Regions from separate parts of the Homo sapiens genome. Here region 1 is linked to region 2. The links come from fine-mapping of genetic effects on gene expression. Tissue or cell type: whole blood. Region 2 holds a variant in brackets; the other region holds the start of a gene. All regions are shown on one strand. Distances are from middle to middle.

Region 1 (8,181 bases), 28 kb before region 2:
TAATTCATGGACTGCCCAACTGCGAAACAAGAAGGGCGCAGTGGAGCAGGAGTATTATGCTACGCGGTTACCTTTTTTTATGGAGGACCGAACTGAGGCCGAGCCTCAGATGATCCTGCACGAGGTTATGCAGTCTAAATAAAAGGCTGTAACTATTCGTTGAAACATACGAAACTGCTAACATTGGACTGTTTTTGACTTTTAAAGTGGCAATTTCGTATGGTTCAACCTATAGAAGCCAAAACTTTCTCTGGCACAACAGATTGCTTCAGGCCATCTCTACCCAGCTAAACACCCCATCCCACTAACACCTGTAACTAGGAGGGAAGCAAGAGTTCTTTGTAAGAAGTAGCTAACTACTTCTTTTCCCTAGCTTTTGCACCCAGGCTCTAAGGGAAGAGGGCCTAGGGTCTCTATAATGCTGGATACCTAGTTAAATTCACATCTAAATGTCTTACTATTCATGTTCTTATCATCTCTAATAAAATGGAAAATACTTTTCCCTAATAGGATAGTTGAGAACGTTAGGGGGAATTAATACCATCTTTCTTCCCTAAGTCCTTATCAAATAATTTTGAAAATTAATTTCCAGTAAGGAAGACTGAAAGGAGCCCTGTAAAATGTTCTCCTCGGGCAAAACCAAACAAGTTTAGATGAGTAGAGCACAAGCTTACCCCCTTTCCGGCCGGACTGCATCATCATTCTACGACGAACAGTGTCAAAGGGGTAGGACACCAGCCCTGCGACTGCCGTCACACTCTGGGCAATCATCCAGCTCACAAAAATGTGCACGTTCTTGGGGTCAGGCAGCATCCCTGTGGACAGAGCCCAGAAGCCGAACGGCTATGAAGTGCCTGTTCTCAGCAGAAAGCAGGTGGAGGGAGAGAGGCCACTGCACCTCCAGCTCCATGCTCTGACCTTGCGGGGAACCTGCCCCTGTGCAGGTGCTTCACATATGACCAGGCAGACAGCAAAGGTGGCTGCTGCCCTCTCCGGACCCCGGAGGGGCAGTGCTCAGCTTGTATACAGGGCATTGGAAGTGGCTTCAAGTTAAACTCAGTAACTGCTATGGCTGTGTCTAGAGGGAGACAGGCTCCCCCCTCCTCCTCTCTGAATAACTAAAGGCCAGAGTTTATTTCAGTAGAGGACACAAGGAACGCTTCAGCTATTAACTTATGCACATCACCTCCTCATTCAGAAGCCTCAATTATCCCAGAGACTAGAAAAAACAAGATCAATATATATCAGGTCCTTTGTGAGTTATAGATCCCATAGGATCCTCTTTCCACACCACCCTCCTTCTCCCCGATGCCCCTCTCTCACCCTTGGCAGTATCATAGACTCCGAAGTAGGCAGCTCTATAGATAATGATGCCTTGGACAGAGACGTTGAAACCCTGGTAGAGCCCCCTCAGGCCATCAGACTTGAAGATCTTGATGATACAGTCGCCCAGACCATGGAACTCACGCTGGGCGGCGCCCTTGCCCACATCAGCAGCCAACCTGGTCCTAGCAAAGTCCAGCGGGTAGACAAAGCAAAGGGAGGTGGCCCCAGCGGCCCCACCGGACGCCAGGTTACCAGCAAAGTAGCGCCAGAACTGCTTATGCCGATCCACACCCCCTAAGAAGAGCTGCTTGTACTTGTCCTTGAAGGCGAAGTTGAGAGCTTGGGTGGGGAAGTAACGGATCACGTTGGCCAGGTTACCCCTCCAGAAGGAGAGGAAGCCCTGCTCCTTAGGGATTCTCACCACACAATCAATGATCCCTTTGTACTGCTTCTCAGCACTGATCTGTTTGCTGGCATGCTGGACCTGGTGGAGGGGAGGGTGGGTGACAGAGGACAGGCAGGGTAGAGAGAAGGGAAGAGGACAGGAGAAAAAAAAAGGTTTGCACTTCCTAGATTTTTTTTTTGAAGAAAAAAAGGATGAGGAAATCAAATGGATACTGAGGACGTGTAAATGGATACTGTTATCCATGTTAGTTACTGGATAACAAGCCAAAATAATCCAATGTTGCTTCAATTATTAGGGTATTTGAGGGAAAAGGTATTGCCCCAAATAAACTGAAAAGGTGATTGAATTATATAAAGCTATAGCCATTTATTTATTTCACTTTCCCTAGGTTTGAGAACTGTATGAGGGGCTTACTGGGGGACAGAAATGAGTAACACTCCCTGCTTCAAAGGGCTTTGGATTTAATAGACATGATGGCCAAAAAATGACAATTTCTCAGTGTCACTCTGATCACCCTGGAGATGAGGATCTCTACTAGATGCTCTAATAGAGGAAGGAGAATAAATCCACTAAACATTAGGCCTCCAAAGTTTTCAAGCAGATAATCCAAGTAATCAATTATTAAGGGTTTGCTGCCGTTGTGAGCAATTTGTGGGGGTTTTGTTGTTAGTAATTCTGACTCCCAAATTGGGCTCTTCCTCATTGAGGGGCCCTGACCTTTTGGGCAGGTGGAGGAAAACACGAGAGGATGATAAACCATTCAGCGACCAGGTAGGGGAGGAAAAGATTTGGAGACAGGATGATCTGAGTTTATTCCGAAAATTGTTTCTTAATATTTCAAAACCTCAGCTTCATCTGTAAAATGGAGAAGAATAACTCTCTCACAGAGGTTACATAAAGATGAAGGCGTCAGCCTACATACAGCATTGTGCATGAGATACGATAAGGGAATTCTTGGGTGATGATTATTTTGATGTTTTTATTGTAAAGGTGCGTGCGCATAAGACGGTGCCAAAAATACTGGCAATCACTAGGTGCCTCCGGGCCTGAGTGCACGCCCGTGCTGTCACGGGCGCAGGATCTGGCACACGTAAACCGGCTCCGGGTGGGTTTCCATATATAGACACCCGAACGCCGGGCGCCACCCGACACCAGGAATCTGCGACTGACGCTGGACCTGTCTCTACGCAGAGGGCACCTTCTTCCCCCGCGGGCGGGCGGGCGGGCGGGCGGGCGCCCGGGCCTGTGGCCTGGCGCAGATTTTCCGCGGCGCCCCGCGCCCTGCAGCTCGCGCCGCATCGCGCGCCCCGCCCGGCCCGCCGCGCCCGCGCCCGCCTCTTGCACCGCGCGGTCCTCACCTGCAGCAGCAGTTTGACCCTCTCGATGGGGGCGACCGCGGTCTTGGAGACGGCAGCGGCGACGCCCCCGGCCAGGAAGTCCTTTAGGAAGCTCCAAGCGTGATCACCCATGGTGACAGCTCGACGCTCTCAGCCCGCAGGCAGCCCGTTCGTGCTCTCGCCCACGCCCGGCCTGGCACCGCCGCGCAGTCCCCGACCCTGCGCGACGCTAGGGGGCCGCCGCCTGGCCCGCAGCTCCCCCTTATATCCCCGCCGGGCTCTCGCGAGAGGAGGCGGGTCGCGGCCGGCGCTCGCGCCGCGCATTGGCTGGGCAGGTGCGGGGCGCCCCCTCCTCCCAGCTGCAGAGGGCATCGGGGGCGAAGGCGCTTCCGGGAGCGAGGCTGGGCCGGGGGCTGTCCCTGCAACTTGGGACGTTTAAAGGGCACATTCATGTTATCTGTCCCGCCGAGCCCAGGGAACACCGTGTCACCGCGGCATGTGGGCCGCGTATTTATAGCACAGGCAGCCTTAGGCCGGGGCGAAGCCGGGGCAGACACCGGGCCGCTGCCGCCGGTGGAGAGTTCTTGACCCTCCGGCCTGCACGGGCCGCGCTCAGGCCCAGGGATTTCGAGCTGTTTCCTCCTTCTTGCATCTAAAGGCGCCCCCCACCAGAGCTCACTGCCTGGATATGGGCCTCTTTAGAGCCGTGCGCTCCCGAGAATAAATGGCAGTCCTCTCAAATAGATACTAAGGTCACCTGATGCTGTGATTGCCTCATAGAATCTGACAACCTGCTGCCTCTCATTTCTTTTCATTCAATCGTTCGTTCAGTCATTCATTCTGCTATTACATATTGATGTGTCTGGCACTCAGTGCCCACAGGAAAGACCTGGTGCAGGGGGCCACTAGGTGAATTCATACTTGTTTCTGCAAAACTCTGTGACTCTAAAACACAGGACACTTCTTTTGTAAGCCCCTAAAGGGTTCAATGTACCACTCTGCTCTCAGCGGAATTTCAGCACATATTAGGGCAGAATGTTCTGTCTGTCAGCCGGTGCCTTCTTGAGGGTCAGTGCTGTCAGCCTTCCGGAGATCCAGTCCTTGGCTGTATTTGCCTCTTTTTAATGACAGCTGGGGTTGAGGAAATGCTATTTAATCCCAGGAAATTAATTGCAATTAATTTCTTAAAATATATAAATCTGAGCTTTAATTTTCCTTAGCTTGTTTTTTAGGCAGTTCATGTAACCATACAGGTTTTCAAATACAACTGTTCCTTCCCCTAGAATGACTGCAATTCGTTTTTAACTTTAAACTCTTCACTCAATTATCTTCCCATGTTTGCTAATTTTCATTTGTACCTTTAACAAAGTTTATTCATTGTTTTATAAACTTTTTTTTTTTAATATTTGCTGACATCATGTTAGAGGTTTACGGAGCTGCAGCTGCGTGTCACCCTGGGCGTGGAGACTTTGGTATAGCAGAAGTCACTAAGGTTCCAGGGCCACAGAGGGCATGCGTTTATCTAAGAGTGGGGCAGGCTAGAGTTCCGAAATCCAGGTAAGCAGAATGAAAGCTAGAAACTAGTGGAAAGCTGCCAGAGGTCAGAGCAGACAGAAGTCAAGAACTCGGAAGAGACAAACAGATAAACCATGTATGTGTTCATTCAACAGACTCTTGCTGAGCATGTACTGTGTACCAAGAACTAGGTGTAGCCCTGTGGATTGAATATAAGTAGACGTGGCCCATCTCCAAAGACCTTACAGTTCAGTGTATTCGTCACTTGCTCCACTTTATCAAAACTTCACTTACTGATTTCCATGGATCAGCATAATCCACACAGTAAACCTTTTTAATTATAATAGTGTACTGTATCCCATCCTGTAATATAGAGCACTTGCTTTTATACCTCCATTTTCCTTTTAATTGTGCATTAGAATTGTGTCTTATTTTTATGATGAAAAATAGGCCGGGTGTGGTGGCTCATACCTTTGGGAGGCTGAGGCTGGCAGATTACCTAGGTCAGGAGTTCGAGACCAGCCTGGCCAACATGGCAAAACCCCATCTCTACTAAAAATACAAAAATTAGCCTGGCGTGATGGCTCATGCCTGGAATCCCAGCAGCTCAGGAGGCTCAGGCACGAGACCCCCGAGAGGCAGAGGTCATGGTGATCTGAGATCACTCCACTGCACTTCAGCCTGGGCAACAGAGAAAGACTCTGACTCAAAAAAAAAAAAAGAAAGAAAGAAAGAAAGAAAGGAAGGAAGGAAGGAAGGAAGGAAGGAAGGAAGGAAAACTAATACTGCTACATTGAAACTTACACAAACTTCATTTTCTCCTCTAAGTTTTTTCTTCTCATATATTTCCCAAATGGAATGGATAGATTTAAGATTTTTAAAGTTTTGTAGCTTTTGCTACATATTGACAAATTGCTCTTCAGAAATACCAACCCACCAGTTATATAGATGGGCTTTCTCTCACACTCTTCTCCAACACTGGCTTTAAAAAAATAGAGAGTTGGTTATTTGTGAGTTATTTATGAGTTTTAGTTTGTATTTACTTAATTACTATGAAGCTGTATATATTCCATATGATTCAATTTAATTTGACAGTTTGACAAGGTTTCCCTTTTGTATAAACTTTTAATCTTCCTTGACTACTGCTGGAGTGAAAGCAGAGTATTTATATTAACAACAATTCTTTATATATTTGGGACAATAAATATGTGTTGAATGTTTTTCATTTTGTTGTTTTCCTTTTGATATTTATTATATCATTCTATTAGTGTTATGAACAGATCTATGGTATGATGATGATCTATTTCATGTTCTGATGTAAATGTATCTCTTTTATAGATATAGCAGTCTATTTACTCTAGTACATATATCAGTTTTTTTCTTCTACTTTGAGTAGCTATTTTTAAAATGTCTAACACTACGTTTTATATTGTATGGAGGTATGGGTCTAATTTCACTTTTCTCCATATCATGCTTGGGTATCCCAATACTAATTCTTAAGTAGATATTTTCTTCTCTCCATTATTTGTCTTATATTACTAAGTCTAGTTTGTCATATATTAAGTTCTCATAATAGCTTTAATTTATGAAATATCCACACTATGACATATTTATTTGATCTTCATTTTTTAAAAATAGGCTGATATATGATTCTACAATCACTTAAAAAATAAAGTTTTATCTGCTTATGTGTCTGGATTTATTTTTACTATCAAGTTGTTCAATTGTTTAAACATCACCAGAAGATTTTAAATAGACATTTAAACTAAATTAAATATTAATTAATATATGAATTCAGGAAGTAGTATCATCTTTGTTACACTTAATTTTACCAATCAGAGTTTTGGATATTTTCTAAATGGGAGATATATTTCTCCTTGGCTACTCTCCAGTTATCCTGTTCTATAGAAGGAGTCATAGCTGGAATCCTTGACAAGAGGTTTTCCATGGAAACTCATACACTGTCCTCTGCTTCCACGGACTTTCTCAGAAAAGAGAGGCCTTACATGCCCTCGGGAGCATGAGCTGCCTGTGGTCACAAGATCCTGGTATCACTTACACAGGCAGGGGAGAGAATGGCGCTCGGCAGAACATGTGTCCACCCGCCCAACCCAGTACTTAGTGGCTTTCTTCCAGCAGGAGAATGGACAAGGCATCTAGGAGATGAGAAGAAACTCTACTTTCAATCGTGGATGGGATCTTAGATGCTGGTGGGAACAGGGCCATGTAGAAATGAGAGCAGGGTGGAAAGTTAGCCTTTTGGAATTTTAGTGGAAGCTCTTATAGACTTAGTCTCTTACCAAACTGGGAATAGAGAATGGAAGTTGCTAAAGAGTAAGAGTGACAAGGAATAAAGAAAAACAATAAAGGATGTGCTAATGGTGGTGATAACATAATGCCTGTGTGCAAGTGTACATTTAAAGTATTAGGAATTAGAACACACTACTAGTGTTTGTTCACATGGTAAGTTTCAGCATTAAGCGAAGAGGATCAAGATATTTATATGTGCATTTATTTATTTATTTATTTTAGAGACAGCATCTTGCTTTGTCACCCTGGCTGGAGCACGGTGGCACAATCACAGATCACTGAAACCATGCACTCCTAGGCACAAGGGATCCTCCTGCTTCAGCCTCCTGAGTAGCTGAGGCTACAGGCACATACCATCATGCCCGGATATATATATTTTTTAATTTGCAGGTTTTGCTGTGGTCTCCTGGTTTTGCTATGTTGCCCAGGCTATGTGGAGAAGCTTACATGCCAGGAACAGACATAGCTGTGGTGCCTACAGGCAATTCCAACGCAGCCTGGCAAGGACAAGGACCCAAGAGGGGGTTCTGGTTGTACTTCCAGCAGAGTGACTTTCAGTGTGTTGCCTCCACCGGAACTTGTACTTTTTACGTTTTATGAATGTTCGTGAAACAAAAAGTTTTGTTAGAAGGATTTGGCGCCTTATTATTTAAAGGAGGTGATTTGAGGGGGCAGAGGAGCCCTTGAATCATAGAAAAGACAGAGGGACTTCTCCTAGAAGGCACTCTGCTTCCGGGGGAAACTGATTCAGGTTGGCCTCTTGGTTGCTGGAGGCAGGGAGGCCTGGGGGACCCCCGTAGCACACCCCTGATAGACACAGGCGGACCCCGTGCACTTCCCAGACAGATTCAGAACCTTTCTTTTCCCACTTCCAATCTTAGCACCTCTCTTTACTTTGTTGAAGAGTCCAACAAGCACATTGAGTATCATACAACACAACGAAGCTAATGTTTATGCTTGCATAATAATGCCTTCCGACCATAACCACACACCTTCCAGGCTGGCATCTTCCAGTTTTGCCCACGGGCAACCTCTGTGAATAAAACCGTTACTCACCTGGAGCTGACTGGGTCCATTTTCTAAACACATTTTGAACTAGTGTTTTGTGTTTCACATATCCTATCAATCATTTTTAAAAACATGCTTTATTTCTATTATTAAAATCAGTAGGCAACAAATGTTATCAGAGACTATTTTTTATCATCTGTACTACTGAAGAACAATATTTTGCTATTTTAATGAATAAGGGTTTTCTTCCATATGCGTTCTTTTACCTCATGACCCTTT
Region 2 (8,181 bases):
ATTCTAACAATCAAAATGAACATGTTTTATTAGCAAAAGAAAAAGCCAATGGGAGTCTATATACAGTACAGATATATCTGTAGTGAAACATATTTCACATTTTAGCCAATCCATTGTTCTTTTTATTGAAAACAGGTTCCTGGATCTCATACCATGGAATAGCTCAGTAGATGAAAGAACGATATTGAGGCTAGAATTTTAAAAAAGACCTCTCCAAGCCTTGATTAAGAAAGAGGGAGATTCAGTGGAAGGGGAAAGTAGCTAAGAACATTAGTTATTAATTACAAGGATAACAGGCCGGGCGTGGTGGCTCACGCCTGTAATCCCAGCACTTTGGGAGGCTGAGGCAGGCAGGTCACCTGAGGTCAAGAGTGTGAGACCAGCTCGGTCAACATGGTGAAACCCTGTCTCTACCAAAAATACAAAAATTAGCCAGGCGTGGTGGCACATGTCTATAATTCCAGCTACTCGGGAGGCTGAGGCATGAGAATTGCTTAAACCCAGGAAGCGGAGGTTGCAGTGAGCTGAGATCGTGCCACTGCACTCCAGCCTTGGTGACACAGTGAGACTCTGTTTCAAAAAACAAAACAAACAAACAAAAAAAACAAAAATTACAAAGGTGACAAAGTCAGGCCCAAACATATTCTGTCTGGGCCTGACTCAGAGAATCAGCCTGTGAAATCACACAGCCCAGAGGGCCAGGACCTGTCCCTGTAATTTCCTACTAAGAGCAAAGCATGAGCAGTTGATGTATTTCACCATAATTACGCATGCAAGAGTATATGTGGTGTGCATACAATGAGAATATTTTTTTCAAATCCAAACTCAGGACACATGGTCTGACAAAGGAGTTCTAAAGAATTTTTCATTTTTAACATAATAAAACAGACAAATCTATTATGTGTGTGTATATATATCTGTATACATATATATAAATAAATATATTTCATACGGCATACCATTGCCAAGTGTTTGGTAGAACTTGGGAAAACTTCTGAGGCTGAATCTGGGCTCAACAAGAAGAATGCTGTGTTGAATAGTGTTGTCTGATAGGCACCCAGGAGGAGAAATCGGCAGCCCACATAGCTCACATTTGCCATCGCTAGACAAGGAACTTGTCAGTGTCATAAAACACATATTAAACCACATTACATATGAAACCACATGTATCATTTCCATTAATGGTATGGTGAGAACGGAATAGGTGTTCTCAATAGAGATGCAACTCTTAAAAAATTGGGAGTAGAAGATCACAATGAATCATCAAAAAATGCAGAGGTTTCAGGTAAAAACTAAACAGATGAGGCAAGCCACACATGTTTATTCTTTGACATTATAAAGTATGTGTACATCATAAAAAAATCACCTTTCTTAATAAAACAAAGTCAGAATTTTCAAGGTGAACGCTAAAAAGAGAATCTCCCAGGTGAGGCAGAGAAGCCAGGCTGAGAAGTTCTCCCTCTGTTCCCCTGAGAGTCACTTCAGCTTTGGCTTCTCATCGACCCTTGCGGCTACCTCCACACCCACCATGGGAGGCTTCCCCAGCTGTGGCCTAAGGGCCCTCCTGGGAGACTCCAAGGCGCAGCTGAGACAAAGCTGAGGGTTCAAAAAGACCTTACCAAAGGCTGATGGATTACAAAGAAGAAATAAAAAGCTAGACCATAATTTGAGGATACCTCAAATTAAGTGAACCCCTAGATGTTCATGGACTCCAGGTTAAAAAAATCTGATATGCATAGGTATATTTTAGATTTATATGCAAAGTGATTTAAATCTTTATTTCCCAAAGTAAAATAATACTTTATGCAAAGGGTCAAACCTACTTCTTGCCAAAAAATTACCTTTTTGGGATTTTTATATGATTTTAAAGTAAGTAAACATTTGGTCTTTTCCCTCTTCAGTTTTATCTATAGACCATGCTAAAAAACAAAACAAAACAAAACAAAAAACCAAGAACAGAGGAACAAGAAGAGCTACTTGATGTAAAGAAGTGACTGAAAGAAAAGTTCAGAGAAGAATTTAGGAATTTGAGAGAACTTGAAAAACATGATCCAGAAAAAAAGAGGCAAAAAGTAAATGTATTTTAAGAATTATACTTGGCCCACATTCCATTGTTTTACATTTGAGGATTTTTCAGATTAAAAAACATATATTTATTATAGACAAATTGGAACCTATAGAAAAATATAATCAAGAAAATGTAAATCACCTAATAATGTCATCACTCAGATCAACACTATTATTATGTTGGTTAACAAATTTTTAAATATAAATAAAACAAAATTTGTGATCATCCTCAATTATTATTATTTTGTTAATGTTGTTATCATTATGTCATGAACATTTCAACAGATCATTAATTAGATTTTTGACATGAATTTTAATATCCACCTAAGATTTTATCAAATGGATATATTATAATTTAACAATTCCCCCAAACTGGTAAATTATTACCAGTTATTCACTATTATATTTACTATGTTTAAGACTTTAATGGATATACTTAAATATTTATTCATTTATTTCCTTCAGGCAAAACATAATTGTGACTATCTTTAGGAATATTTTTAAAACCGCTCTCCAGAAACTTACACCAATTTACCTTATTACTAACAGTACATATGCACATCAGCGTTAGCTTTCGCCCTGGCCTATGTTGGGTGTATTGGTTATCTATTGCTGCGTAAAAAATTACCTAGAAGTTTGCCAGCCTAAAACAATAAACGTTTATTTTCTCATGGTTTCTGGAGGTCAGGAATTTGGGCTGGGAGTCTCTGGCCCGGAGCTCTCATGAGACTGCAAGTTCAGCTGCTTGCCAGGGCTGTAATCACCTCCCAGTTCACATGGGGGAGGATCTACTTCCAAGCTCACTCATTGGCTATCATCCAGATGTTATCAGGTCTTCGCCATGTGGGCCTCTCCACGGCGCAGCTCACAGCATAGCAGCTGGCTTCCCTCAGATTAACAGAATGAGAGAGAGTGCCCGAGGAGGAAGCACCAGTCTTTTTAGAACCTCATTTTGGAAGTAATATTCCATCAATTTGTCATATTCTATTTGTCAGAGCAAGTTACTACGTCCGGCCCATATTCCAGGGAAGGGGATTACACAAGGAAGGGCATGAATACCAACAGATGGGATCACTGCGGCCGTTTAGAAGCTGCCTATCATAGTATATTACCTATCAAAGTACCCTTATTTCAAAATTAAGCTTTGCCAAAAGTAGTAACTCAATTTTATTTTACTTTTTTCATATTTGATTGCCTGTACAGTTGACCATATTATTTATTTACTAATAAGCTAATATTTGTCTAGTAAGTTTTTTGTTTTGTTTTGTTTTTTGTTTTTTTTTTGAGACGGAGTCTTGCTCTGTTGCCCAGGCTGGAGTGCAGTGGTGCGATCTCGGCTCACTGCAAGCTC[T/C]GCCTCCCGGGTTCACCCCATTCTCCTGCCTCAGCCTCCCGAGTAGCTGGGACTACAGGCGCCTGCCACCACGACTGGCTATTTTTTTGTATTTTTAGTAGAGACGGGGTTTCACCGTGTTAGCCAGGATGGTCTCGATCTCCTGACCTCGTGATCCGCCCGCCTTGGCCTCCCAAAGTGCTGGGATTACAGGCGTGAGCCACCGCGCCCGGCCCTTATCTAGTAAGATTTCTTACAACAAATAGACATTTGTTGGCTCACAGTTCTGGAGGCTGAGAAGTCCAGTGTCAAGGCACCAGCATCTGGCAATGGGCTTCTTGCAGCATCATAACATGGCTGAAGGGTGAAAGGGTGAGAGAAAGAGAGAGAGAGAAAGAGAGAGACTGTAAGAGCTGGCAAACCCATTCCCATGATAATGAACCCATTCCCACAATAACAGCTTTAGTAACCTAACTACCTCTTAAAGTTCCCACTTCTCAATACCATCACAATGACAAATTTCACCATGAGTTTTGGAGTGGATGTTTGTTAAACAATAGTATAATATAATATTTATTGAACATTTACTATGAGCCAGGTATTGAGTTAAGCATTTTGTATGCATTTTCTAATGTAATCTTCCCCATGATCCAATAAGGTAGGCACTTTCATTATCAAAACCATTTTACACATGAGGAAACTGAGGCACGGGATTAAAGTTATCAAATGTTATATAACTGGTGAGGGAGCTCCACAGTCTGTGCTCTTAACCATTATCTTACATGCGTCTTATGCTCATGTGTGTATTTGTGCTTTTACACATATGTATATGTGCATAAACAATATAGACAATTGTGTTTTAAAACTACATATAAATGATATCACGTTGTACAAATATTTTTGCAATTTTCTTTTTTCACTGAGCGTTGGTTTTGAGATTTATCCGTGTTGATAGATGCAGGCACATTTAGTCATTTTAACAGTCTTGTGGAATTCCATTGTGTGAATGAACCACAGTTTAGCCATTTTCCACTGAGGGGAGGTTAGTTTCATTTTTTTCACAGTGAGATAAAATGCTACACTGAACAGCTTTCCGTATGTCTTTTGGGGCACATTTGCATGACTTTCTCTAGAATAGATAACTCAAATGGATTTTTTGGCTACTGGGGCTTGTGTCTCTCCAAAATGAATGTGCCCATTTATTTACCAGCAATGTGTAAAAATTCCCGTATTGTATGTCTCTGACATGGTTTGGATCTGTGTCCCTGCCCAAACCTCATGTCAAATTGTAATCCCCAATGTTGGAGGTAGGACCCGGTGGGAGGTGATTGGATCATGGGGGCAGTTTAGTACCATCCCCCTTGGAACTGCTGTCGCGATAGTGAGTTCTCACGAGATTTGGTTGTTTAAAAGTGTGCAGCCTCTTCCTCCTCTCGCTCTTCCTCCTGATCCAGCCATGTAAGATGCTCTTGCTGCCTCTCTGCCTTCTGCCATGATTGTAAGTTTCCTGAGGCCTTCCCAGAAGCCGAGCAGAAGCTGCCACGCTTCCTGTACATCCTGTGGAACTGTGAGCCAATTAAACCTCTTTTCTTTGTCAATCACCCAGTCTCAGGTATTTCTTTATAGCAGTATGAGAATGGACTAATAAAATCTCTAGCTGTATTAGTTTGCTAGGGCTGTCAAAACGAAGTATCACTAGCTGGGTAGCTTAAACAGCAGAAATGTATTTGCTACAATTCTGGTGGCTGCAAGTCAAAGATCAAGGTGTCACTGGAGTTGGTTTTCTTCTGCGGCCTCTCTCCTTGGCTTGCAGGTGTCCATCTTTTTGTGTCTTTACATGGTCTTCCTTCTGTGTGCATTGTGTCTTAATTTCTTCTTCTTAAAAAACACGAGTCAGATTAGATTAGAACCCCTCCCTAATAACCATATTTTATTTCACATTAATTAACTCTATCCAAATGTATTTATTTATAGAGACAAGGTCTCACTATGTTGCCCAGGCTGGTCTTGACCTCCTGGCCTCAAGCAATCCTCCTACTTCAGTCTCCCAAAGTGCTGGGATTACAGGCATGAGTCACCATGCCTGGCCTTAATTATCTCTTCAAAGACTCTATATTCAAATACAGTTACATTCTGAGGTGCTGGGGGCTAGAACTTCAACATATGAATGTTGAGGGAATACAATTTAGCCCACTCACACTTGTCAACACTTGGGCTTATCAGTCTTAATAATTTTTATCTGTGAAAGTTGACGGACTCAAAATTGGAGTCACTTGTGTTAAAAATCCTGACAAATAGGGCTGGGGAAGACCATGGAAGGGAGGTCTCTCACAAATGCCCAGGTGTTTGAGACGAGCCTGGGTGACATAGGGAGACCCTGTTTACAAAAACAAAATAAAACCACCTCCCACTCCCCAAACTTTGTCAACTAGCAATGGCTGTTTGCTCTCTCTCTGTGGTTGAAAAGAAAGATTTTCTTTCAGTCCTGAAGAAGTTGGCCTGGCAGCTGAAAGAATATTTTGATGATTTCCTGAAGAGAGGAAACCTTATAAACAGTCCAACTGGCATTAGTTATTTGGATTTCCTGAGAAACTTCCAGGGTCACAGCAATGACAGGGATCATGTACCATATTCTCTCAATGCCCACACACAGGTTACTGCCTGCCCCTCTAGACTGGGAATGCCATTCTTCTAATCCACTGAGTCCTACCAGTCCCAGTGAGAAATGTTCAGGGAGGCTCAGCTCCTTCGATTCCTTCCGTGTGTGGTGCTGTCTTCCCGGAGACCCTATGCTAACGGACAAGGGGTATCCTGGTCCACGGATGGTCCATGAGCAGTCGACCTCTAGGAACAAAAGTGCTATAGGAATGAAATTACTCCATGTTGTTACCAAAATTATTGGTATTATTGTTAAAATTCCTTTTTTTAAAAAATTTTGAGACAGTCTGGCTTTGTCACCCAGGCTGCAGTGCAGTGGCAATGTTAGCTCATTGAAACCTCCAATTTCCAGATTCAAGCGATTCTCCTGCCTCAGCCTCCCGAGTAGGTAGGATTACAGATGTGTGCCACCAGACCTGGCTAATTTTTGTATTTTTAGTAGAGATGGGGGTTTTGCCATTCTGGCCAGGCTGGTCTCGAACTCCTGGCCTCAGGTGATCTGCCCACCTTAGCCTCTCAAAGTGCTGGGATTACAGGCATGAGCCACCAGGCCTGACCTGAAATCACTTTCATGTAAGAACCAGTCTGCTTTCCCTAGCTGAGGAGGTTACTGCTGTGTATAGGAGGAGAGGTACTGATTCAGTATGACTCATTTCCCCTGGACAGCTCCTTCATTTTCCCCAGTGCCACACTGTATTTTTAGCTTTGGCCTTCTACAGCGCTTGACCTTTTGCCTGGATAGAACAATGTGCTATGTAGTGCAAACCCACAGCCTTCCCTGCCCCATGCAACATAGGGGATGAATATATTAGATTATGCCTTCTTTGGCAGATCTGCAATTTAGGTAGGACAAAGCAATACTGCTTATACACACACACACACACACACACACACACACACACACTCCTTTGGTAACATTGCCGCCACCTCTTCTGCCATCTGATGCAAGAGATTAGTATAATCTTAATATTTATGAAAATATTTATAAAATGTGGACAAGAATCCTTGTACCAAAATATTAATTCTACTCATTCTAGACTAAGAAACAGAAACAACCTTTAAAAATAGAAGAGTAGTTAAATAAATCATGGATTATCCATACAATGAAATGCCAAGCAGGTATTAAAAATGATTACAATGAATTTTTAATGAAATGGGAAAACCCTAAATATGAAATATTAAGTAAAAAGTCTTAAGCCAAAAACTATAAATACAACATTATTAACAACAGGCTATGCCCGTGCTTGTCTCACCGAGCCCACTGTCACAGCCTCAACCAGCAGTGAGCCCCTTCAATCCATCCTCCACATTGAAGCCAGAGAGGTCTTCTTAAATTGAATCTAACCTTGTCCACTCTACACTCAGGCTCTCTAGTGACTCTCCTACTGATGTTCAGACTCATTGACATGGGTTCCAGGGTAGCAGAGGGCTCTGGAACCCATGTCAAGGAGCCTACCCGCAGGAAGATGTTCAGGCTCACTGACATGGGTTCCAGAGCCCTCTGCTATCCTGGTCCTGGCACCGCCTCAGCATATGTGGGTGTCCTATTCCCCCATCTTAAGCAGCGTGCTTTATATTGCCTAGACTTTTGCACATGTTCCGAACAGAAAGTCCGTGCCTTCTTTTTGTCTTCATATCTTCTTCTCAGGTGGTCCGAGTGCAGTCACAACCAGTTAAGGATTTCTTTGTTCCTTCTCCACTCCCACTGCTTCACTTGACTAGCCGAAAAAAACAAAAAAAAGACATCTTCTTCTCATCCTTCAAATCTCAGATTAGCCCTCATTTCCTCAGGAATGCTTTCCTCATCTCCACCAGGATCTCCTCACCCCTTCTCCATGCTTTTATTCCTCTCTGCGTGTCCCCTTACAGTAGAACCTATTGCCTATTTTTTTTTTTTTTTGGGGGGACAGAGTCTTGTTCTGTCACCCAGGCTGGAGTGCAGTGGCATGATCTCAGCGCACTGCAACCTCCGCCTCCCGGGTTCAAGCAATTCTCCTGTCTCAGCCGCCTGAGTAGCTGGGATTACAGGCACGTGCCACCATGCCTGGCTAATTTTTGTATTTTTAGTAGAGATTGGGTTTCACCATGTTGGTCAGGCTGGTCTCGAACTCCTGACCTTGTGATCC

Evidence for each region. PIP is the estimated chance that this variant, and not a neighbour inherited with it, causes the effect.
Region 1: SLC25A4 starts here. The variant in region 2 is fine-mapped to the expression of SLC25A4 in whole blood (INTERVAL, PIP above 0.99).

Annotation. Positions count from the first base shown.
Region 1 is chr4:185,138,393-185,146,573 of GRCh38, reverse strand. It overlaps SLC25A4 (solute carrier family 25 member 4), which reads right to left and starts at 3,308. Exons shown (of 4, transcript NM_001151.4): 1 at 3,091-3,308; 2 at 1,324-1,810; 3 at 675-815. The coding sequence starts at 3,201. RefSeq lists a silencer at 3,237-3,536.
Region 2 is chr4:185,110,819-185,118,999 of GRCh38, reverse strand. No RefSeq gene overlaps it. Among named protein-coding and RNA genes, the nearest start is that of SLC25A4, 28 kb to the left of the region's middle. RefSeq lists an enhancer at 2,731-3,025. The variant T/C (reference allele first, on the strand shown) is at 3,419.